Linked DNA regions of Homo sapiens: region 2 is linked to region 1. Evidence: fine-mapped expression QTL. A gene starts in region 1. The other region holds a variant in brackets. All regions are shown on one strand. Distances are between the middles of the regions. Region 1 holds the start of AKAP10 (A-kinase anchoring protein 10). Region 2 overlaps AKAP10 (A-kinase anchoring protein 10).

The links. PIP is the estimated chance that this variant, and not a neighbour inherited with it, causes the effect.
Region 2: its variant is the best candidate, but not a certain one, in a credible set for the expression of AKAP10 in whole blood (INTERVAL, PIP 0.64).

The regions. Positions count from the first base shown.
Region 1 is chr17:19,972,361-19,984,019 of GRCh38, reverse strand. AKAP10 (A-kinase anchoring protein 10) reads left to right here and starts at 6,192. Exons shown (of 15, transcript NM_007202.4): 1 at 6,192-6,428. The coding sequence starts at 6,341. RefSeq lists an enhancer at 5,109-5,822 and a silencer at 6,295-6,484.
Region 2 is chr17:19,941,740-19,953,398 of GRCh38, reverse strand. AKAP10 (A-kinase anchoring protein 10) reads left to right here. Exons shown (of 15, transcript NM_007202.4): 5 at 5,894-5,992; 6 at 11,489-11,573. Among named protein-coding and RNA genes, the nearest start is that of AKAP10, 30 kb to the left of the region's middle. The variant T/C (reference allele first, on the strand shown) is at 5,737.

The sequences.
Region 1 (11,659 bases):
TGCCTCAGCCTCCCACATAGCTGGGATTACAGGCACACACCACCATGCCCAGCTAATTTTTATATTTTTTTAGTAGAGACGGGTTTTCGCCATGTTGGCCAGGCTGGTCTTGAACTCCTGGCCTCAAATGATCTGACCACCTCAGCCTCCCAAAGTGCTAGGATTACAGGCATGAGCCACCACACCTGGCCAAAATAGAATATTCTTTAGTGAGGTCTGCTGGTGACAATTTTTTTCTTTTTTTTGAGACTGAGTCTCGCTGTTGTCAGCTTGGGCTGGAGTGCAATAGCACGATCTCAGCTCACTGCAACCTCCACCTCCCGGATTCCAGCAATTCTCCTGCCTCAGCCTCCCAAGTAGCTGAGAGATTACAGGCACCCACCACCACACGCGGCTAATTTTTGTATTTTTAGTAGAAATGGGGGTTCACCGTGTTGGCCAGGCTGGTCTCGAACTCCTGACCTCAGGTGATCCACCCACCTTGGCCTCCCAAAGTGCTGGGATTACAAGCATGAGCCACCACGCACAGCCAATTTTTTCCGTTTTTGTCTGAAATCTTATTTTGTGTCATCTTTGAAATATATTTTTGATGGATATAAAATTGTTGGTTGATAGTTATTATCATTATTATTATTATTTTGAGACAGGGTCTCACTCTGTTGCCTATGCTGGGGTGTAGTAATGTGATCTCGGTTCACTGCAGACTTGACCTCCTAGGGCTCAGGTGATCTTCCCACCTCAGCCTCCCTAGTAGCTGGGACTACAGATGCATGCCACCATACCCAACTAATTTTTCTATTTTTTGTAGAGATGAGGCTTTGCCACATTTCCCAGGCTGGTCTCTAACTCCTGAGCTCTAGCAATCCACCCACCTTGGCCTTACAAAGTGCTGGGCCATGACTAGCCAGCAGTTACTTTTTATAGCATATTGAATATTTAATATGAATCTTCTGGCATCCACTGTAACTGTTTAAAAAATCAGCTGTTTACTTGGCACTCTTTTTTTTTTTTTTTTTTTTGAGACAGAGTCTTGCCCTGTCGCCCAGGCTGGAGTGCAGTGGCGTGATCTTGGCTCACTGCAAGCTCTGCCTCCCGGGTTCACGCCATTCTCCTGCCTCAGCCTCCGGAGTAGCTGGGACTAAAGGCGCCCGCCACCACGCCCGGCTGATTTTTTTGTATTTTTCGTAGAGTTGGGGTTTCACCGTGTTAGCCAGGATGGTCTCGATCTCCTGACCTCGTGATCTGTCCGCCTCGGCCTCCCAAAGTGCTGGGATTATAGGCGTGAGCCACCGCGCCCAGCCTCTTTTTTTTTTTTTTTTAGACGGAGTCTTACTCTGTCATCTAGGCTGGTGTACAGTGGCGTGATCTCAGCTCAGTGCAACCTCCACCTCCTGCCTCAGCCTGCCAAATAGCTGGGATTACAGGTGCGTACCATCACGCCCGGCTAATTTTTGTATTTTCAGTAGAGATGGGGTTTCACCATGTTAGACAGGCTGGTCTCGAACTCCTGGCCTCAAGTGATCTGCCTGCCCCAGCCTCCCAAAGATTACAGGCATGAGCCACCGCACCCGGCCAAGTAGCACTCCTTTGAAGGTAATCTGCTTCCCCTACCCCTAGCAATTTTTAACAATTTTTCTTCATTTTTATTTCCTGAAGTTTTGTTATTAATAATCTGTGTGCAGATTTCTTTGTATTTCTTTTGTTTGCAGTTCATAGTGATTCTTGAATTAGTGTGTTGGTTTCTGTTATCACCACAGGAAAATTGTCAGCCGTTAGCTTTTCAAATATTTCCTTGCTAAATTCTCTCTTCTCCCCTTTCGGTACAATTGATTTGATTAAAACTAAAACCAGGGCCGGGTGCAGTGACTCATGCCTGTAATCCCAACACTTTGAGAGGCTGAGGCAGGTGGATCACCTAAGCTCAGGAGTTCAAGACCAGCCTGGCCAATATGGTGAAACCCCGTCTCTACTAAAAATACAAAAATTACCAGGCATGGTGGCACACATTTGTAGTCAGGAGGCTGAGGCAGGAGAATTGCTTGAATCCAGGAGGTGGAGGTTGCAGTGAGCTGAGATCCCACCACTGCAGTCTGGCCTGGGCGACAGAGTGAGATGAGAATCTGTCTCGAAAAAAAAAGTTATGAATGTTTGATAAACTATATTTGTTAGAATGTTTGTTGTAGAATACTATTCATTGATTTTTAAACAATGTTAGATTAAACCATTCACTGGATTTGTGATAATTAACTTACTGATTTTACCTCACTGATTTGTTGTAATTAATACAACTGGTATAAAAAGACTGTGACGAGGCCGGGCATGGTGGCTCCCGCCTATAATCCCAGCACTTTGGGAGGCTGAGGCAGGCGGATCACCTGAGGTCAGGAGTTCAAGACCAGCCTGACCAACATGGTGAAACCCCATCTTTACTAAAAATACAAAATTAGCCGGTCGTGGTGGTGCATGCCTGTAATCCCAGCTCTTCGGGAGGCTGTGGCAGGAGAATCACTTGAACCCGGGAGGTGGAGGTTGCAGTGAGCCGATATCGCGCCATTGCACTCCAGCCTGGGCAACAAGAGCGAAACTCCGTCTAAAAAAAAAAAAGAAAAAAAACACATAAAACAAAACAACACTGTGACGGTTCCCAAAAATTAGGAGCATAATTAAAGGAACTCCTGATAAAAATTAATTTTATCTTACATGTAAACTAAAATGACTTTATGAAGTTAATTCAGAAATACAATGCAGGGTATTAGTTTGCCACAGCTGCGTATTCAGCCTAATGTAATATTCTTGTTATTTTTAAATTCTTCTTTTAACTTTACTCATATGTGGATCATCAAATTTCAAAAGATTAAATGACAATACTCTTAGCAGCAAGCTTCCCTAAGCATATAAACATTTTAATGGGTGATGATTCAGAAGGTACCCGAAGAATATGTACTGCCAGATATCATTCACCCCCATATACCTGCCCGACAGACATCCCATTTTGGGACCCTGGATAAATGTGTGGGTGGAGAGAAAGATAGGAGAAAGTGGTATAAGCAAATGGCTTTGGAGTCTGATTGACAGCGATTGAAATCCTGTCTCTACCTCTTAACAGCCTCATGATCCTACATAAGTTACCCCGATCCTCAGGGCCACATCTGTAAATTGGGGGTTGCGATGGCAGCCATCTCACAGGGTCTCTTTTCGGGGAAGGGCAGGAATTATGGATTAAGTGAGCTAGTAATTGTAAAGCACTTAATACAAGGAGGGCGCATAATAAGTACTTCATAAATAATGACGGCCATTATCATGACTGAGGTGTATGCAGCTGTCGGGGATTACGGCGACTTCAGAATTTCTGGTGGGCAGGGCTCAAAGGCAGCAAATCACACTGGAAGTCGAGGTGAGGCACTGCTTCTGCACAGACTGCTTAGCTGGAGAGAATGAGGAAGGCTTAGAGGAGATTTAGAGGAACTTAGAGTCCTCCGCCTCCAACTCTGTGGGATCTGCTCCCGTGCCAGAGACATTCAGGGGATTTCTCGCACTCTCCCCTCCCCTACGTCCCTCCCGCCCCATCCAACTAACCACACAACACATACAAAATAGCCCCTGCGAGGTTCTGCACGCTGGAAGGGAACAGGAGAAGGGCGCTGCGCTTTCTTGCTGATGCCCTGTACTTGGGCCCCTGGTAGACACAGCCACTTGTCCCCTCAGCCTGCAGAGAAATCCCACGTAGACCGCGCCCGGGTCCTTGGCTTCAGCCAATCTCCCTTTGGTGGGGGTGGGATGCACGATCCAAGGTTTTATTGGCTACAGACAGCGGGGTGTGGTCCGCCAAGAACACAGATTGGCTCCCGAGGGCATCTCGGATCCCTGGTGGGGCGCCGCTCAGCCTCCCGGTGCAGGCCCGGCCGAGGCCAGGAGGAAGCGGCCAGACCGCGTCCATTCGGCGCCAGCTCACTCCGGACGTCCGGAGCCTCTGCCAGCGCTGCTTCCGTCCAGTGCGCCTGGACGCGCTGTCCTTAACTGGAGAAAGGCTTCACCTTGAAATCCAGGCTTCATCCCTAGTTAGCGTGTGACCTTGAGCAGTTGACTTTATTTTTCAGTGCCTAGTTTTCCAGATACCAGGACTGACTCCAAGGACTATTACTCATCTGGAGGGTTTAGCACAGTACCGTCGCATAGTAAATTTCCATGTCAGTTTTGGTTACCTTTCATGCACTTGCAAACATGCCATGCTCTGAAACGAAATAGGCACATCTTTTTTTTTTTTTTTTTTAAGGAGTCTTCCTCTCGCCCAGGCTGGAGTGCAGTGGCGCGATCTTGGCTCACTGCAACCTCCACCTCCCGTGTTCGAGATTCTCCTGCCTCAGCCTCCTGATTAGCTGGGACTACAGGCATGCCACGACGCCCAGTTAATTTTTGTATTTTTAGTAGAGACGGGGTTTCGCCATCTTGGCCAGGCTGGTCTAACTCCTGACCTCAGGTGATCTGACTGCCTCAGCCTCTCAAAGTGTTGGGATTACAGGCATAAGCCACTGCATCTGGCCAGAAATGAAATAAGTAAATCTTTTAACCTGCTCTAACAATATAGTGAAAAGACCATATTATTATTAGAGCAGGTTAAGGGATTTGCCTATTTCGGGTTCTAGTTATAGTCTTAAACTTGGACATTCTTGTAGAAAGTAAAAAGTTTCCTCTTCAAAGTTCCCCTTCTTGTTAAAGAATACATCATAAGTGTTAGAAGTAATAGTTTATTTTAAAGACTAACTTTCTTCAAGCCTCCTTGCTTTGTGCTAATAACTCTTTGTTAAGCCCTATCCTATGTAACTGTTGGACATGCTCACAGGCACGTTCCAGTTCACAGCCTATGCCCCTTCCTTATTTGGAAATGTTATTGCTTCCTTAAACCTTTCGGTAAGCAACTTCCTCTCCTTCTTCGTTCTTCCTTGCACTTACCTATTTAGAAAGTTTTAGGCTATTAGCAAATCGGCTATCAGTTTAAGAGTGTGAGGTCCCGCTCCAGCCAATGGATGCAGGACATAGCAGTGAGGACGACCCAAATGCGTAAGGGATAAATATGTTTGCTTTTCCTTTGTTCAGGTGTGCTCTCGACATCGTTCCATCTGCGATTGAGCACCCTTTCTGCAGAAAGTAAAGATTGCCTTGCTGGAGATCTTTTGTCTCCGTGCTGACTTTTCTTCGTGGCACCGATTATCTATTTCTAACAATTTTGGTATTTCTAACATTCTGAACAATCTTGGGCTAGTTGTCTCTTCTGGGCCTGTTTCCCCATCCGTCACATGATAAACTTCATTGGTTTAAAAACCCCAGCGAACATTTATTGAGTTACTATTACCTTCCTGCCCTCCCCAACCCCAACCCCAGGGAGCAGTTACAACCTCAGCCGCTGAGCGCACTCGCCGGGTGTTAAGAAGCACCAAAGACAGGGAGGCTTGATTGATTTTGCTTTGGGAGTAGAGGGTCAGAAGATTCACAGGAAAATGGCATTTGAGCAAGGATGATTCACTGGAGCTAGCTTTTAAATACTGGCGAGGCTTTTATGTTGCAGTCCCTTACAAAGTTGAGCATTCGCAGGGACTGCACTCCGAAATAAGCCCGCTTCCCCTTTTCATTCGCTAATGATCCAGGGAGCTGCTGGTTCCGCATGCGGCAGGTTGTGCCTTTTCCTAATCAGGGTTCTGCATCGCCTCGAACCCGCAGGCCGTGGCGGGTTCTCCTGAGGAAGCAGGGACTGGGGTGCAGGGTGAAGCTGCTCGTGCCGGCCAGCGCCTGTGAGCAAAACTCAAACGGAGGAGCAGGAGGGGTCGAGCTGGAGCGTGGCAGGGTTGACCCTGCCTTTTAGAAGGGCACAATTTGAAGGGTACCCAGGGGCCGGAAGCCGGGGACCTAAGGCCCGCCCCGTTCCAGCTGCTGGGAGGGCTCCCGCCCCAGGGAGTTAGTTTTGCAGAGACTGGGTCTGCAGCGCTCCACCGGGGGCCGGCGACAGACGCCACAAAACAGCTGCAGGAACGGTGGCTCGCTCCAGGCACCCAGGGCCCGGGAAAGAGGCGCGGGTAGCACGCGCGGGTCACGTGGGCGATGCGGGCGTGCGCCCCTGCACCCGCGGGAGGGGGATGGGGAAAAGGGGCGGGGCCGGCGCTTGACCTCCCGTGAAGCCTAGCGCGGGGAAGGACCGGAACTCCGGGCGGGCGGCTTGTTGATAATATGGCGGCTGGAGCTGCCTGGGCATCCCGAGGAGGCGGTGGGGCCCACTCCCGGAAGAAGGGTCCCTTTTCGCGCTAGTGCAGCGGCCCCTCTGGACCCGGAAGTCCGGGCCGGTTGCTGAATGAGGGGAGCCGGGCCCTCCCCGCGCCAGTCCCCCCGCACCCTCCGTCCCGACCCGGGCCCCGCCATGTCCTTCTTCCGGCGGAAAGGTAGCTGAGGGGGCGCCGGCGGGGAGTCAGGCCGGGCCTCAGGGGCGGCGGTGGGGCAGGTGGGCCTGCGAGGGCTTTCCCCAAGGCGGCAGCAAGGCCTTCAGCGAGCCTCGACCTCGGCGCAGATGCCCCCTGAGTGCCTTGCTCTGCTCCGGGACTCTTCTGGGAGGGAGAAGGTGGCCTTCTTGCGCGAGGTCAGAGGAGTATTGTCGCGCTGGTTCAGAAGCGATTGCTAAAGCCCATAGAAGTTCCTGCCTGTTTGGTTAAGAACAGTTCTTAGGTGGGGGTTAGTTTTTTTGTGTTTCTTTGAGGACCGTGGATCAAGATCAAGGAAATCTCTTTAGAACCTTATTATGGAAGTCTGAAGTTTCCAAATGTTGAGGGTTTTATGTCTAAAAGCAACACGTGAAAAAATTGTTTTCTTCACCCAGTGCTGTCTTCCAATTTCCTCTTTGGGGGGAGGGGTAGTTACTGCTGTTACTAAAATAAAATTACTTATTGCTAAAGTTCCCCAACAGGAAGACCACTACTTTTGATGACTTTGGCAAGTTTGCTAACTACTGGAACCCTAACTTACAAACGAACTACTTACATTTTTGATTTCCAGTTGTATTACCTGCCCAATGTTTACGTAGAAACAGCTTAATTTTGATTCTGGGTAACGTTGTTGCACTTCATTAAAAATACATATCCGAAGTGAGCAAGTATGGGTCTGTGGACAGCAGTGATTTTTCCTGTCAATTCCTGTTGCTTCAGATAAAATGTACCAGACAGAGGCCGGGCGCGGTGGCTCACGCCTGTAATCCCAGCACTTTGGGAGGCTTGGCGGGTGGATCACCTGAGATCGGGAGTTCAAGACCAGCCTGACCAACATGGAGAAACCCCGTGTCTACTAAAAATACAAAATTAGCCAGGGTGGTGGCGCATGCCTGTAATGCCAGCTACTTGGGAGGCTGAAGCAGGAGAATCGCTTGAACCTGGGAGGCGGAGGTTGCGGTGAGCCGAGATAGCACCATTGCACTCCAGCCTGGGCAAAAAGAGCGAAACTCCGTCTCAAAAAAAAAGTACCAGACAGAAATGGGTTTTGTTTTCTTTTTTTGTTTTGAGACGGAGTTTCGCTCTTGTTGCCCAGGCTCGAGTGCAATGGCGCGATCTCAGTCTCGGCTCACTGCAACCTCTGTCTCCCAGGTTTAATCGATTCTCCTGCCTCAGCCTCCCAAGTAGCTGGGATTACCCATGCCCCACCATGCCCGGCTAATTTTTGTATTTTTAGTAGAAACGGGGCTTCACCATGTTAGGCTGGTCTTGAACCCCTGACCTCAAGTGGGCCTCCCACCTCGGCCTCCCAAAGTGCCAGGATTACAGGCATGAGCCACCGCGGCCAGCCAGAAATGGGTTTTGGAAAAAGCACTAAACAAAATCGAACTTGGTTTCATATGACAGCTCTGCTGCTAACTGTAACAGGGGCAGACCAGTTAACCTACTTTTCTGTCTTCTGTCAGCTGAGAATTAGATGATTCCCAAAGGCCCATTGAACTCTGAATGACTTTAAATACTTCTTCTTAAGTGGGTACACGGTTTTGGTAACTGATGCCAGGTGATGAATGCATGAAAGTGCTTAATGAATGAAACCGGTAAAATAGTAGGAGGAAGCTTTATTGGTAAGGCAGGGGTATACCTAATAGCTCTCTAATTTATTGGTATTGAAGTGGTTAACTTTTGTTTTTTTAAGGGGGGAAAACATTCTAAGAATAATGAGGCAAACTGCATATTGCACAAGAGACTGTTGTCTCTATTCAACAAATACCTTTTGAGTGTCCAGAGTCTGCCAGGTGCTGTGCTAGGCCCTCACGATTGAGTAGTGAACCAGAGAATGTCCCTGCACCCATGGAGCTTATTGTCTACTGGGGTAGACAGATAATAAATAAGCAAACAAATCTTCTCTCTTCTCCCTTTCGCTCCATGTAAGTGTGTGTGTATAGGTGTATACTTACAAGTTGAGTAAAGTGTTATGAAAGATTAAGAGGAGAAATGCATTTTGGTTAGATGTTAGAGGACTCAGCAGGTGACCTTGAAACTTAGAGCTGAAGGATCAGTAGGAGGTAACTAGAGAGGCCAGGGAATCGCATGTTCAAAGGCCAGGAGGCAAGAAAGAGCATGGTGCCCTTCAAGAGAGGAAAGAAGGCTACTGTGACTGGAGCATAGATGTAGGCAAGTGTTGGGTGATTGAGAGCTCTACGGGCCATGGTTAGGTTTTATTCCTAATGCCGAGATGCCAAACATGGTGGTTCATATCTGTAATCCCAGTATTTTAGGAGGCCGAGGCAGGAATATAGCTTGAACCCAGGAGTTCAAGACCAGCCTGAGCAACATGAGACCTGTACAAAACATTTAAAAAATTGCTGGGTATGATGGTGCACACCTGTGGTCCCAGCTACTCAGGAGGCTGAGGCAGAAGGATCACTTGAGCCTAGGAGGTGGAGGCTACAATGAGCCATATTTGAGTCACTACACTCCAGCCTGGATGACAAAGTGAGACCATGTGTCAAACAAAATACAGAAAGAATATTAATTTAAAATTTTGAAAGAGGAGTGATCTGAACTTATATCTTAAAAAGATCATTCTAGGGCATGGTGGCTCATGCCTGTAATCAAGGGCTTTGGGAGGCTGAGACAGGAGGATCACCTGAGGCCAGTTCGAGATCAACCTGTACAGCATAGAGAGACTCCATCTCTACAAAAAGAAAAAATAAATAGCTGGGTGTTGTGAGTTATTCAGGAGGCTGAAGCAGAAAGATCACTTGAGCCCAGGAGTTTGAGGCTGCAGTAAGCTATGATCCCACCACTGCAACACAGTGAGATCTTGTCTCAAAAAAAAAAAAAAATCATTCTAGGTGCTTTTTGGAGGCTGGATGTGGTAAGAGTAGAAGCTGGAGATGGTCCTGTTAGGGATTCGATTCAGACTTTAAATACCATCAATGCATTGAGTCCCAAATTTACATCACTACGTTGGATCCTTGCCCCTGAATCCAGACTGGTATATCCAACTTTAGGTTCAGTTTGTATCTCTACCTGACCAATATAGAGGTGTCCAGTCTTTTGGCTTCCCTAGGCCACATTGGAAGAAGAATTGTCTTGAGCCACACATAGAGTACACTAACGCTAACAATAGCAGATGAGCTAAAAAAAAATCGCAAAACTTATAATGTTTTAAGAAAGTTTACGAATTTGTGTTGGGCACATTCAGAGCCATCCTGGGCCGCGGGATGGACAAGCTTAATCCAGTAGATACCTTCAACTTACAATATCTAAAATTTTATGCCAGATTTAGTCATTTTAAACCTGCTCATCAGTTTTTCTCAAGAAGTAGTATTTTGGCTTTTTTTCTTTTCTTTTTTTTGAGATGGAGTTTCGCTCTTATCGTTCAAGCTGGAGTGCAGTGGCGGATCTTGGCTCACTGCAACCTCCGCCTCCTGGGTTCAAGTGATTCTCCTGCCTCAGCCTCGCAAGTAGCTGGAATTACAGGCATGCGCCACCATGACCAGCTAATTTTTGGAGACAGGGTTTCACCATGTTGGTCAGGCTGGTTTTGTACTCCTGACCTCAGGTGATCTGCCTGCCTCGGCCTCCCAAAGGCTGGGATTACAGGCATGAGCCACCGCTCCCGGCTGCATTTTTGGATTTTTAGTTGCTCAGCCCAAAACTTTAGTACATCTTTGAACCTCTTCTTTCCTCCTACTCTATATCTGATCCATCAGCAAATCTGTTAGGTCTACCTCACACATATCGAAATCCTACCACGTCTCACCATCTGTGACAATTAACACCCTGGTCTAGGCAGTCATCTCTGTTAAGATTGAGTGGTTAAGGATGTCCTCTAAGGAGATGACATTCAAATCTTAGCTTAAATGTCAAGAGGGAGCTGGTTTTATAAAGATTGAGGAGGCAGCATTATTTTGCCATAGGCTTCCATTTGGTTTCCATTCCATTCTTGATACTTATGGTATATATTCAAAACAAATGCACAGAAACAGACCCAGGTATATTGGGAATTTCGGATATAGAGTTCCTAGTTGGGAAAAGATAGACTGATCTGTAAATGATGCTAGTTATCCATCATCTGGCAAAAAATAATTTCCTGCCTCCTCTCATATATCTCAGATCAACAGACTTTTTCTGTTAAGGGCCAAATCATAAATATTTTAGGCTTTCCAGACCATATGGTTTCTGTCACACTCTCCTTTATCCTTGAAGCCATAGACAATATGTAAACAAATGGGCATGGCTGTGCTACGATAAAACTTTACTTACAAAAACTGGTAGTGGGCCAGTTTAGGCATGGCCAGCACTTTGGGAGGCTAAGGCAGATGGATCACTTGGGGTCAGGAGTTTGAGACCAGCCTGGCCAACATGGTGAAACCCTGTCTCTACTAAAAATACAAAAAATAGCTGGGCATGGTGGTGGGTGTCTATAATTCCAGCTACTCTGGAGGCTAAGACACAAGAATCACTTGAACCCAGGAGGCAGAGGTTGCAGTGAGCTGAGATAGCACCACTGCACTCCAGCCAGGGTGACGGAGTCTTAAAGCAAAACAAAACAAAAGGTAGTGGGTTGTATTTGGCCCATGGGCTGTAGTTTGCCAATCCCTGATGCAGAAACAAATTCCAGGTAAATAAGAGCCTGGAATGTTAAAAAAACAAAACTTGAAGTCATGTAGAAGAACAGGTAGGGGGAACAATCCTGATCTCAGGATAGGAAGGGATATTGCTTAAAATAAGACACAGGAAAATATAATCCATGTTGTGTAAATTTGACTACGTTAAAACTTAAAACTTTCGCCAAGCGCGGTGGCTCACGCCTGTAATACCAGTACTTTGGGAGGCCGAGGTGAGCAGATCACCAGGTCAGGAGATTGAGACCATCCTGGCTAACACGGTGAAACCCCGTCTCTACTAAAAATACAAAACATTAGCCGGGCGTGGTGGCGGGCGCCTGTAGTCCCAGCTACTTGGGAGGCTGAGGCAGGAGAATGGCCTGAACCCGGGAGGCGAAGCTTGCAGTGAGCTGAGATCGCGCCACTGCACTCCAGCCTGGGCGACAGAGTGAGATTCCGTCTCAAAAAAACAAAACAAAACAAAGCAAAAAACCTAAAACTTTCATACAATAAAGTATACCTAAGATACTTCTAGAAGAGAAGATTTACATCCAGGACGTGTATGGAATTTCTGCA
Region 2 (11,659 bases), 31 kb after region 1:
TTTCTATTATTTCTGCTTGCTTTGGGTTTATTTTACTCTTTTTTTTTTCTCCAAGTTGCTTAAAGTAGAAACTTAGATTTCTGGTTTGAGACCTTTCTTTTCTAAGATAAGCATTTAATACTGTAAATTTCCTTCTAACCACTGCTTTAGTTACACCCCCACAAATTCTGGTATTTTGAACTGAGCACAAATGAAATGTTCTAATTTCCCTTGAATCTTATTCTTTTACCAATGAATTATTTAGAAATATGTTATTTAGTTTGCAAGCAATTGGAGACTTTTTTCCTGTTATTTTTCTACCATTTATTTCTCATTTCATTATATTATGGTCAGAGAATATATTTTGAATGATTTCATTTATTAATTTTTAAAAATAACATTAAAAAATTTTTTAAAATGTGAATATACCACATACAGTATAAAGATTGTACATTCTGTTTTTGGACAGTTTTCTATAAATGTCAAGTTGATTTAGTTGGTTAATGATGGTGTTCAGTTTTTCTTTATTCTTGCTGATACTTTGTATGCAGTTATATCACTTTATTACTCAGAAGAGTGTTGAACTTTCCAACTACAATTTTTTTTTCCAATTTTACTTTCAGCTCTATCTGGTTTTGCTTCATGTATTTTGAGGCTCTGTTGTTAGGTGTGTACACATTCAGGATGATATCTTCTGGGTGAATTGCCTGTTTTATCATTATGTAATTCCCTCTTTATGGTAATTTTCCTTGTTCTAAGATCAGAAATATCTGTTGTCCAATTTATATAGACACTGCAGCTTTCATTTGATTAGTGCTTGCATGGCATATCTTTTTCCATTTTTTTACTTTTGATCTACCTTTATAATTCTATTTAAAGGGGGCTTCTTGTAGGCAGCATATAGTTGGGTAGTGTTATTTATTTATTTATTTATTTATTTATTTATTTATTTATTGAGACAGAGTTTTGCTCTTGTTGCCCAAGCTGGAGTGCAGTGGTGCAATCCTGGCTTACCACAACCTCCACCTCCTGGGTTGCAGTGATTCTCCTGCCTCAGCCTCCCAAGTAGCTGGGATTACAGGCACGCGCACCATGCCTGGCTGATTTTTTGTATTTTTAGTAGAAACGGATTTTCACCATGTTAGCCAGGCTCGTCTTGAACTCCTGACCTCAGGTGATCCACCTGCTTTGGCCTCCCAAAGTGCTGGGATTACAGGCGTGAGCCACTGCACCCGGCTGAGTCATGTTATTTTTAATCTTTTCTCACAATACAGGGTTTTTGTTGGTAAATTTAATTATTTTAATATAAATTTTAGTATAATTATTTACATTAAATGTAACTGTTGCACTGGGGTATTTATAATGTGTAAATATAATTATTGGTATTAATATAATTATATTACTCATAATAATATTAATATCTTTGGATTTAGATTACCAGTTTAGTATATGTTTTTCTGTTTCTCCCTCTTTGATTTCCCCTTTTTTGCTTTTTTTTTTTTTTTAATTCTTATTTTTTTTTAGTATTTGTTGATCATTCTTGGGTGTTTCTTGGAGAGGGGGATTTGGCAGGGTCATAGGACAATAGTTGAGGGAAGGTCAGCAGATAAACATGTGAACAAGGTCTCTGGTTTTCCTAGACAGAGGACCCTGCGGCCTTCTGCAGTGTTTGTGTCCCTGGGTACTTGAGATTAGGGAGTGGTGATGACTCTTAACGAGCATGCTGCCTTCAAGCATCTGTTTAACAAAGCACATCTTGCACCACCCTTAATCCATTTAACCCTGAGTGGTAATAGCACATGTTTCAGAGAGCAGGGGGTTGGGGGTAAGGTTATAGATTAACAGCATCCCAAGGCAGAAGAATTTTTCTTAGTACAGAACAAAATGGAGTCTCCCATGTCTACTTCTTTCTACACAGACACAGTAACAATCTGATCTCTCTTTCTTTTCCCCACATTTCCCCCTTTTCTATTCGACAAAACTGCCATCGTCATCATGGCCCGTTCTCAATGAGCTGTTGGGTACACCTCCCAGACGGGGTGGCAGCTGGGCAGAGGGGCTCCTCACTTCCCAGATGGGGCAGCCGGGCAGAGGCGCCCCCCACCTCCCAGACGGGGCAGTGGCCGGGCGGAGGCGCCCCCCACCTCCCTCCCGGATGGGGCGGCTGGCCGGGCGGGGGCTGACCCCCCACCTCCCTCCCGGACGGGGCGGCTGGCCGGGCGGGGGCTGACCCCCCACCTCCCTCCCAGATGGGGCGGCTGGCCGGGCGGGGGCTGCCCCCCACCTCCCTCCCGGACGGGGCGGCTGCCGGGCTGAGGGGCTCCTCACTTCGCAGACCGGGCGGCTGCCGGGCGGAGGGGCTCCTCACTTCTCAGACGGGGCGGCCGGGCAGAGACGCTCCTCACCTCCCAGATGGGGTGGCGGTCGGGCAGAGACACTCCTCAGTTCCCAGACGGGGTCGCGGCCGGGCAGAGGCGCTCCTCCCATCCCAGACGGGGCGGCGGGGCAGAGGTGGTCCCCACATCTCAGACGATGGGCTGCCGGGCAGAGACACTCCTCACTTCCTAGACGGGATGGCAGCCGGGAAGAGGTGCTCCTCACTTCCCAGACGGGGCGGCCGGTCAGAGGGGCTCCTCACATCCCAGACGATGGGCGGCTAGGCAGAGACGCTCCTCACTTCCCGGACGGGGTGGCGGCCGGGCAGAGGCTGCAATCTCGGCACTTTGGGAGGCCAAGGCAGGCGGCTGGGAAGTGGAGGTTGTAGGGAGCTGAGATCACGCCACTGCACTCCAGCCTGGGCAACATTGAGCATTGAGTGAGCGAGACTCCGTCTGCAATCCTGGCACCTCGGGAGGCCGAGGCAGGCAGATCACTCGCGGTCAGGAGCTGGAGACCAGCCCGGCCAACACAGCGAAACCCCGTCTCCACCAAAAAATGCAAAAACCAGTCAGGTGTGGCGGCGTGCGCCTGCAATCCCAGGCACTCTGCAGGCTGAGGCAGGAGAATCAGGCAGGGAGGTTGCAGTGAGCCGAGATGGCGGCAGTACAGTCCAGCCTCGGCTTTCACAACTTTGGTGGCATCAGAGGGAGACCGGGGAGAGGGAGAGGGAGACGAGGGAGAGCCCCTTTTTTGCTTTCTTTTGGATTATTTGAATTTTTCCTTAAATTTATTTATCTTACTTATTTATTTATTTTTTTGAGTGATTCTCCTGCCACAGCTCCCAAGTAGCTGGGACTGCAGGCATGTGCCACTACACCCAGCTAATTTTTTTGTATTTTTAGTAGAGACAGGGTTTCACCATATTGGCCAGGCTGGTCTTGAACTCTTGACCTCAAGTGATCCACCTGCCTCGGCCTCCCAAAGTGCTGGGATTACAGGCGTGAGCCACCATGCCCTGCCTTTTTCTAGAATTTATATATTGAGTTCTTGATTGTATCTTTTTATGTAGGCTTTTTAGTGGCTTCTCTAGGAATTACAATATACATACTTTTCACAGTGTACTCACATTTAATATTTTGTAACTTCAAGTGGAATGTAGAAAACTTAACCACCATAAAAATAGAACTAGGGATGAGGTTAAAAAAGAGAGAGAAAAGAAATGTAATAAAGATTTAATAACACCGTTTTTTTTTTTTTTTCTCTTTTTTTTTTGAGACAGAGTCTCTCTTTCTGTTACCAGGCTGGAGTGCAGTGGCGTGATCTTGGCTCACTGCAACCTCCGCCTCCTGGGTTCAAGTGTTTCTCCTGCCTCAGCCTACTGAGTAGCTGGGATTACAGGTGCGCGCCACCATGCCCAGCTAATTTTTGTATTTTTAGTAGAGACGGTTTCACTGTGTTGGCCAGGATGGTCTCGATTTCTTGACCTTGTGATTCGCTCTCCTCAGCCTCCCAAAGTGCTGGGATTACAGGCGTGAGCCACCGCGCCCGGCTAAGTCTTTAAATATTTTTTTGACATTGCACTTTTTCTCTTTTCCTTCTAGGATTTTAGTAACCCAAATGTTAGTTTTGTTATTGTTTGGCAGGTTCCTGAGGCTTTCCTTACTTCTTTAAATTTTTTTTTCCTGTTGTTCAGCTTCGAAAATTTCTATTCATCTGTCTTCAAATTCACTGGTTCTTTCCCGTTATTTCCATTCTGTTATTGAGTCTTTGTAGTGAATTTTAAATTTTGTTTATTATGTTTTTTAGTTCTAAAATTTTCTTTTTTTGTGTATGTCTTATACTTTGCTCCTGAAACTCTTATTTGTTTCAGGAGTGATCTTATTTCTTAGAGCATGGTTTTAGTAGCTACTTAAAATTTGTTTTATCATCCCAGCATATGTGTCCTCTTGATTGTCTTTTCTCTTGTGAGATAATGGGATTTTCTGGTTCTTTATATGACAATTAATTTTGGATTGTATCTTGGACAGTTTGACTTACGTTACATGATTCTGAATCTTGTTTAAATCCTGTGGAAAATATTGAAGTTTTTGCTTTAACAAGCAGTTGACCTAGTTAGGTTCAGTCCACAAATTCTAAGCAGCATTCTGTCGGCTCTGGTTCCATCATCAGTTCAGTTTTGTATCTTATCTGCTTATGTGCCTTTCTGTGTCCAGTCTGGGACCTGGCCAATGGTCAGGTCCCAAAGCCTTTGTACACTTTTAGAAGCAGGGCCATGCACACCCAGCTCACGAGTGGCCCCGGGAGTGCACATACAACTCGACGTTTTCATGGGCTCCTTCTTTTCTGTGATGTCCCTGACACGTTCTGCCTTCTAAGAACCTCCCTTTATCCCTTTCCTGTTGTCTGGCTAGAAAGTCAGGGCTTTAGATTCCCTATACTTCAGCACACTTCCTGTAGCTATGTCAACCTCTGTGGCCACGACTTCTTCTTCTTGGGACTGCAGTTTCTCTTGTCAGAAAGTAGGATTCTTGGAGCTGCTGTCATTGCTGCTGTGGCTGCTCTGATGCTGCCTGGGAGTCGAAGGAGAGAAAGGAACAAAACAAAACAACCCAGGGGATTTCCTCCACTCTCTTTGATCCGTGAGAGCCCCCTTTCCTGTTCCTCAGACCAGAAATAGAGGGCCTGTCTTGGAACTTCTTCTTTGTGCATCTGGTGTGCAGTTTCAGCTTTTGAGTCCAGGCCAGGAGGTGCTGGACAAACTTGTCAGGAGTACGGAGGTACTGCAAGTTCTGATTACTTTTCTCAGTCCACCTGCTTCCAAGTCCTTGGATGCATTTGTCCATTGTTTTGAGTTGCATTCCATGGGAGAGACAGAAGAGTGTGCTTATTTCATCTTGACATACTTATTAGGATTTCATATCAAATCAACGGATGATATTCTCTATATTAATTTGCTGTTTTCCCTTTAGCAAGCACATTAGGAAAATAACACTTTAACACCCGCCTTTGGTGGTTTCTGTCATAATTATTAATACTTGACTTTTTTTTTTTTTTTGAGACGGAGTCTCACTCTGTCCTTTGAGGCATTGTCCCCATAAACTTTTGGTAAAGCATCAATAATTTTATCTTTCATCCACACAAGCTTCACCATAAATTTGATGTTTATTCTTCCATTTTAGCAGAATTCATGTTGCTCCAATAGGGGCTGTCTTCAAACTGATGTTTTCTCCTTCTTAGTGCCTCAGAGTAGATCCTGTTCAGATACGTTATAACAGGTTAATATGAGTTTATTTTGGTGTAAAAGTACTTTGAAATTCATGCATAGTTTTTTCATCATATGCATTTTCCATAGCTTTGAACACCCCCATGTAACTCTCC[T/C]CTTCCACAAACCAAACAATGAAAAAGCACCTTTGTGATGGAAGTTTATTTTGCAATAGGAACTCACAGTGATCTAAGCCCTGCTATTCATGAATATAATTCATTACTGGAGTCCAAGTTGCTTTTTGGTTTTTGAAGTTCTCTTCTTCCCTTGCAGGTATAGAACAAGATGCAGTGAATACTTTTACCAAATATATATCTCCAGATGCTGCTAAACCAATACCAATTACAGAAGCAATGAGAAATGACATCATAGGTAAGCAGTGCTTGAAACTATGGCAAAAAAAAAATGACAAAAAATGCACAGAACTGACAATTTTCGTTATTGACTAAGATAATTTTTTCTTAACATGGAATTTAGCAGTTCCCTTCCTAATTTGTTTTCTGAGTATTTTTTATATCGGATTATAGCTCACTTTAAAAGTTTCTCGGCTGCATTCGGTGCGAGGGTCTTTGCCTGGGCCAGATGGGCTGCAGTGTAGCGGGTGCTCAGGCCTGCCCGCTGCTGAGCAGCCGGGCCGGCGGGCGGCTACGCTAACCGGCACAGACCACCGGATGGACTGGCCGGCAGCCCCGCACCAGTGCACGAAGTGGGCGGGACAGAAACTTCTGGGGTTGGAAGTCCAGTGAGGCTAAAAGCCGGTACCAAAGTCTCTAGGCATCAGGGCTGCAGCCCAAGAGTCTCACGACCAGTGGGCAACTGGATGGCCAGACAGGTGTCTCAGTGGTGGCCTCTCCGTCTCAGGGCTTCATCCCACTTCTCAGTGGGCCTGACGTCCCTGGGCACCCTGGATGTCTACCTGCATTAGCCAGAGCCATCACATGGCCTGTGACTTGCCTTTTTTTGCCAGTTGATTGTGCCACACACAGTGTCATTTCTGTGTCATTTGGCACAGCTGGAGGTGCAAGGAGGAGGGCAGCCTCATGTCCAGTCCCAGTTTCACGTAACTTTATTCTTCTGAATAAAGACAATTTGCTAACCTTAAAAAAAAAAAAAAAAAAAAAGTTTTTCTTATATGTTGGACCCAAATTCTTAGGCTTTAACCTGAATAACAATGACAGCAAGATCAATAAATAGTACACATTTATTAAACACTCACTGTGTCCCAGACAATATTCCAAGCACTTTTTATGGATAGACTCATTTTAACTTCTAAAGAACTTTGTGGGATAAATACAGTTATTTTATAGATGAAGAAACTGAAGCACAGAGAAGTTAAGTGCTTTGTCCAGGGTAACAGCTCAGATATGGCAGAGTCAGGATTTGAAACTAGACCCTCACATACCTTAACTGCTGTGCTGTGGCAGTGTTTTTCATACTGTAGGTTGGGACCAGCCTTCTCTTATGCCCTCACCCCCTGCCAAAAAAAAAAAAAAAAAAAAAAAATATATATATATATATATATATATATATATATATATATAATATATATATATATAAAATATATATATATATAAAATATATGTATTAGTATATATGCATATATAGTATATATTATATATTAGTATATATACTAATATATAATATACATATTAGTGTGTGTATATATATATATACTAGAATAAAAAAATCAAAGTATCTCAGAGTAGTAAGGACAAACATTTCAGAAAAATGTTTTCATTATATATACATGTATGTATGTGTATGCTGATTCAACAAATATATTTCTTATAGGTTATAGCAAAATAGTTTGAAAGCTTTTACTGTGTTTTATCAGGAAGACCTTAGGTGAACGTATATTCACAGATAAAAGAGGTTATTTATTCATTCAATAAATATTACATTCTCATAAGTCCTAATATTATGTATTTTTATTCTTCAAAAAAGTTAGTATTTGTGATTTATGAAATAAGACATGTTCTTGCACTTTTAGCAGATCTGTCCCGATGTTGGGCTTCTTTAATCCTTAGTGTGGGTGCTTTGCACTCACTCACTGCTGGGGACAGCAAGACCCCTGTTAGTCTCAGCTGTGTTTCTTAAATTGGCCCACTGTACCTTCCAGTTAGCTATTCTGGGGTCCATGTCATGTTGGCTCCATTTTCCTTTTCTTTCTCCCACACAGATACCTATAACGGCTATAACATAGGCCTGGTGGCTGTTGGTGGCTTATCCCTATCTGCTTGTATTTAAGGGGTACTGTTTCACTGAGTTTTGCTGACAGATGTTGTCATGAGATTTGAGGTTTTCTGTGTTGTTGCTCTATTTTTATGTGGGAATTTGCTACTATCATCATCCCTAGACCAGCTTTTCCTAGTAATACAACAGGGATGTTCTGACTGATTAGAGTTTGCCTGTTTGAAGAATTGGTTGGCTAGTGATTTTTTTTTGAGGGGAGTCTGTACCAGTTAATAGCCTGACTGGCGTGTGGATAAAAAGGAAGCAGTTTCAAGTCAAATAAAACACTTAAAATGAAACCACACTGCAACTCTCTTTCTTTTACTTAAGCTTAATCAAATTAATGATGATGTAATCCCATGAAGGAAAAGTCTTCTGAAGGATCAAGTTGATAACATTTTGTGATCAAAGAATTTGAGAAAACCTCTATCCCAGTGTCTATCATTATATATTTTAGGATGTTAATTACCTGTGTGGCTTTAGGCAAGTCATTTTTCCTCCTTGAGCCCCATTCTTAATCCTGTCCAAATTATTTGTCTCCTCTTGCAGTTGGACTATTTTAATATAGCTGTCCTTCAAGTGAGTTTTGTTCAAAGGAGCCTTCACTTTAGCTCTTACTGTGTACCCACTTTGCATAGTCTTGTTTTAAATGTAATCCTTGGATTTTTGGTGTTGCTAACTAATTACTGTTTTTATGTGAGGATTTAGAGTGATCCAGAATCTATACTTGCACTACCTCCTTCATCTTCCACAAATGTTTGAAGTGGTAGAATTTTTAAAAACTTTGAAGGTACAGCTGACAGAATTTGCTGATGGTTTGGAAGTGAGTGGTATGAGAGGGAAAAAAAGGAATAAAGCATGACTGCATTTTTTGTTTGTTTGTTTGTTTGTTTTTGAGACGGAGTCTCACTCTCGCCAGGCTGGAGTGCAGTGGCGTGATCTTGGCTCACGGCAACCTCCGCCTCCTGGGTTCAAGCGATTCCCCTGCCTCAGCCTCCCAAGTAGCTGGGACTACAGGCGCTCGCCACCACGCCTGGCTAATTTTTTTTTTTGTATTTTAGTAGAAACGGGGTTTCACCGTGTTGGCCAGGATGGTCTCCATCTCCTGACCTCATGATCTACTCACCTTGGCCTCCCAAAGTGCTGAGGTTACAGGCATATATATAAGCATATAAAGTGTGTTATAGCATACAAACAGGTATATATATAAACATGCAGTCCACACAGCTGATAGGAATGAGGCAGTAGTGAAGGAGAAGTTGATGTAGGAGAGGGGACAGTTGTTACAGGAAAGAAGTCTGGAGGCAGAAGGGATGAATTCCAGTGCTCACATAGAAGATTGCTTAGATGGGAGCAAGGACAATTTATCTAGAGTCACAGGAAAGAATGCAGTACACGGGTAGAGATGCAGGTGAGTTGAAAGATGTGAGAGATGATGGAAATAATTTTCTGATTGCTTCTATATTCTCAAGGAAGCAGGAAGCAAAGTCCTCAGCAAAGAGAATAGAAGAGGTGTTAAATATTTGAGAAAGGAGATGTACTGTAGAAAAAAAAAAAACTCAGTTTCTCCTTCTGAACTCTCACAAAACAGAACCCTTCCATGACTCTAGTTGTGTGGGGTTTTTTCCCTGTCAGCTACCAATTCTGCAGATGATTGTTCAGTGAACACCAACTGGGTGTCCTCTAAGTCAGTTCAGTTCTCACACTGTTTACCTGGAGATAGCATCAGATCCCACAGATTGAGGACTCTGTCCCACAAGACTGCCTCCACTTCAGATGCCAGTCTCAAGTACAAGTTGTGGCCTGTGCTTCTGACTGACCTTCTATAAATTGGAGTTCCCACAGTCCCCTCCTTGGGTTCAATAAATTTGCTAGAGCAGCTCTCAGAACTCAGGGAAATGCTTTACATATATTTACCCATTTATTATAAAGGATATTACAAAGGATACAGATTGAACAGGCAGATGGAAGAGATGCATGGGCAAGGTATGGGAGAGGGGCACAGAGCTTCCATGCACTCTCCAGGTCATGCCACCCTCCAAGAACCTCTACAGATTTAGCTATTCAGAAGCCCCCCTCCCCATTCTGTCCTTTTGGGTTTTTTGTGGAGACTTCATTATATAGGCATGATTGATCATTGGCTATTGGTGATCAGCTCAACCTTCAGCCCCCTCATCCCGGGAGGTTGGTGGGTAGGGCTGAAAGTCCCAAACGTGTAATTCTGCCTTGGTCTTTCTGGTGATTAGCCCTCATCCTAAAGCTCTTTAGAGGCCACAGCCACAAGTCATCTCATTAGCCTTCAAAAGAATCCAGAGATTCCATGAATTTTAGGCGCTGTATGCTAAGAAACTGGCTAAAGGCCAGTTGCAATGTCTCAGGCCTGTAATCCCAGCACTTTGGGAGGCTGAGGCAGGAGGATCGTTTCAGGCCATGAGATCAAAACCAGCCTGGTCAACATAGTGAGACCCCCTTACAAAAAATTTAAAAATTGGCCAGGCGTAATAGCTCTTGTCTGTAGTCTCAGCTACTCAGAAGGCTGAGGATCACTGAGCCCTGGAGTTGAAGGCAGCAGTGAGCCATGATCGTGCCACTGACTCCGGCTTGGGTGACAAAGTGAGACCTTGTCTCAGAAGAAAAAGGAAAAAAAAAAAACTGGGCAAAGACTAAATAACATATTTCACAGTATCACAGATTTGTATTGTCTAGGAAAGTGAATGTAAACAGACCAGGACACTAGTATGATCCCTTGGTTTCATGAAGGTCCCACTAAAGTCATGAACACAAAGTGAGACTAGGCATCATGTTATATGGTTTTTCCAGCCATGTTTAACAGCTAGCTAAATAGCTAATTGTTTCGCTGCAGTTTATTTTAGCAGTTCCTTATTTTAGCACATTTCATGTTTTAAAATTTCTACCAATAACATTTTAATAAACTTTTTTACAGATAACTTCACAAATCCATAATTTTTTAAGTTACAATCCCAGAAATAGAATTGCTCATTGAAAGGGTATGTTCATTTTTAAAGTTATGCTAGAAACTGCCAAATTGCCTTCAGAAAAAGGTGTTTGTATCCCCACTAACACTAGTGTTAGTTTTCTTGTGCCCTTGCTCAAGTATACATATTATTAAAAACAATGTTGGGCCAGTTTACTAGATAAAAGGTGTAGTGCCTCCTTATTCTAATCTATTTGATTACTAGTGAGTATGTATGTCTTTTCACGTTGGTCATTTTATGTTTGTTCCTTTGTGGATTGTCATGTCCTTTGCTCATTTTTCTTTTGGAACATTTCTTAGTAGTTTATAAGAGCTCTTGGTATTTTAATGATAGTAACCTTTTAACTGTCATGCATGCTGCAAATCTTTTTTCTGTTTGTTTGCCTTTGTATTTTGTTTTTGGAGGGTTTCTATGTATAGGAATTAAATTTTATGTTGTTAAATCTTTTGATTTCTGCTTTTGCATATGTACTTCAAAAGACTTTCTATTTTAAGATCAAGTGTTACCTGTATTTTCTTTTAGTTCTATTTAAAACCTCTTAATTTATATGCCTGTGCTGTTAACTCCCAAGTTGATTCACAAGTGTGTATACATAGTTTGAATTTAGTGGCAATTTAATTATTTACAACTTCTTTTGCAGCAAGGATTTGTGGAGAAGATGGACAGGTGGATCCCAACTGTTTCGTTTTGGCACAGTCCATAGTCTTTAGTGCAATGGAGCAAGAGTAAGTTAGTTCATATTTTCACATTGTGCATCCTAGGGAATTTGGGTTCATTGTTAGGAATGGGCTTCACTCAGCTAAAAACAAAG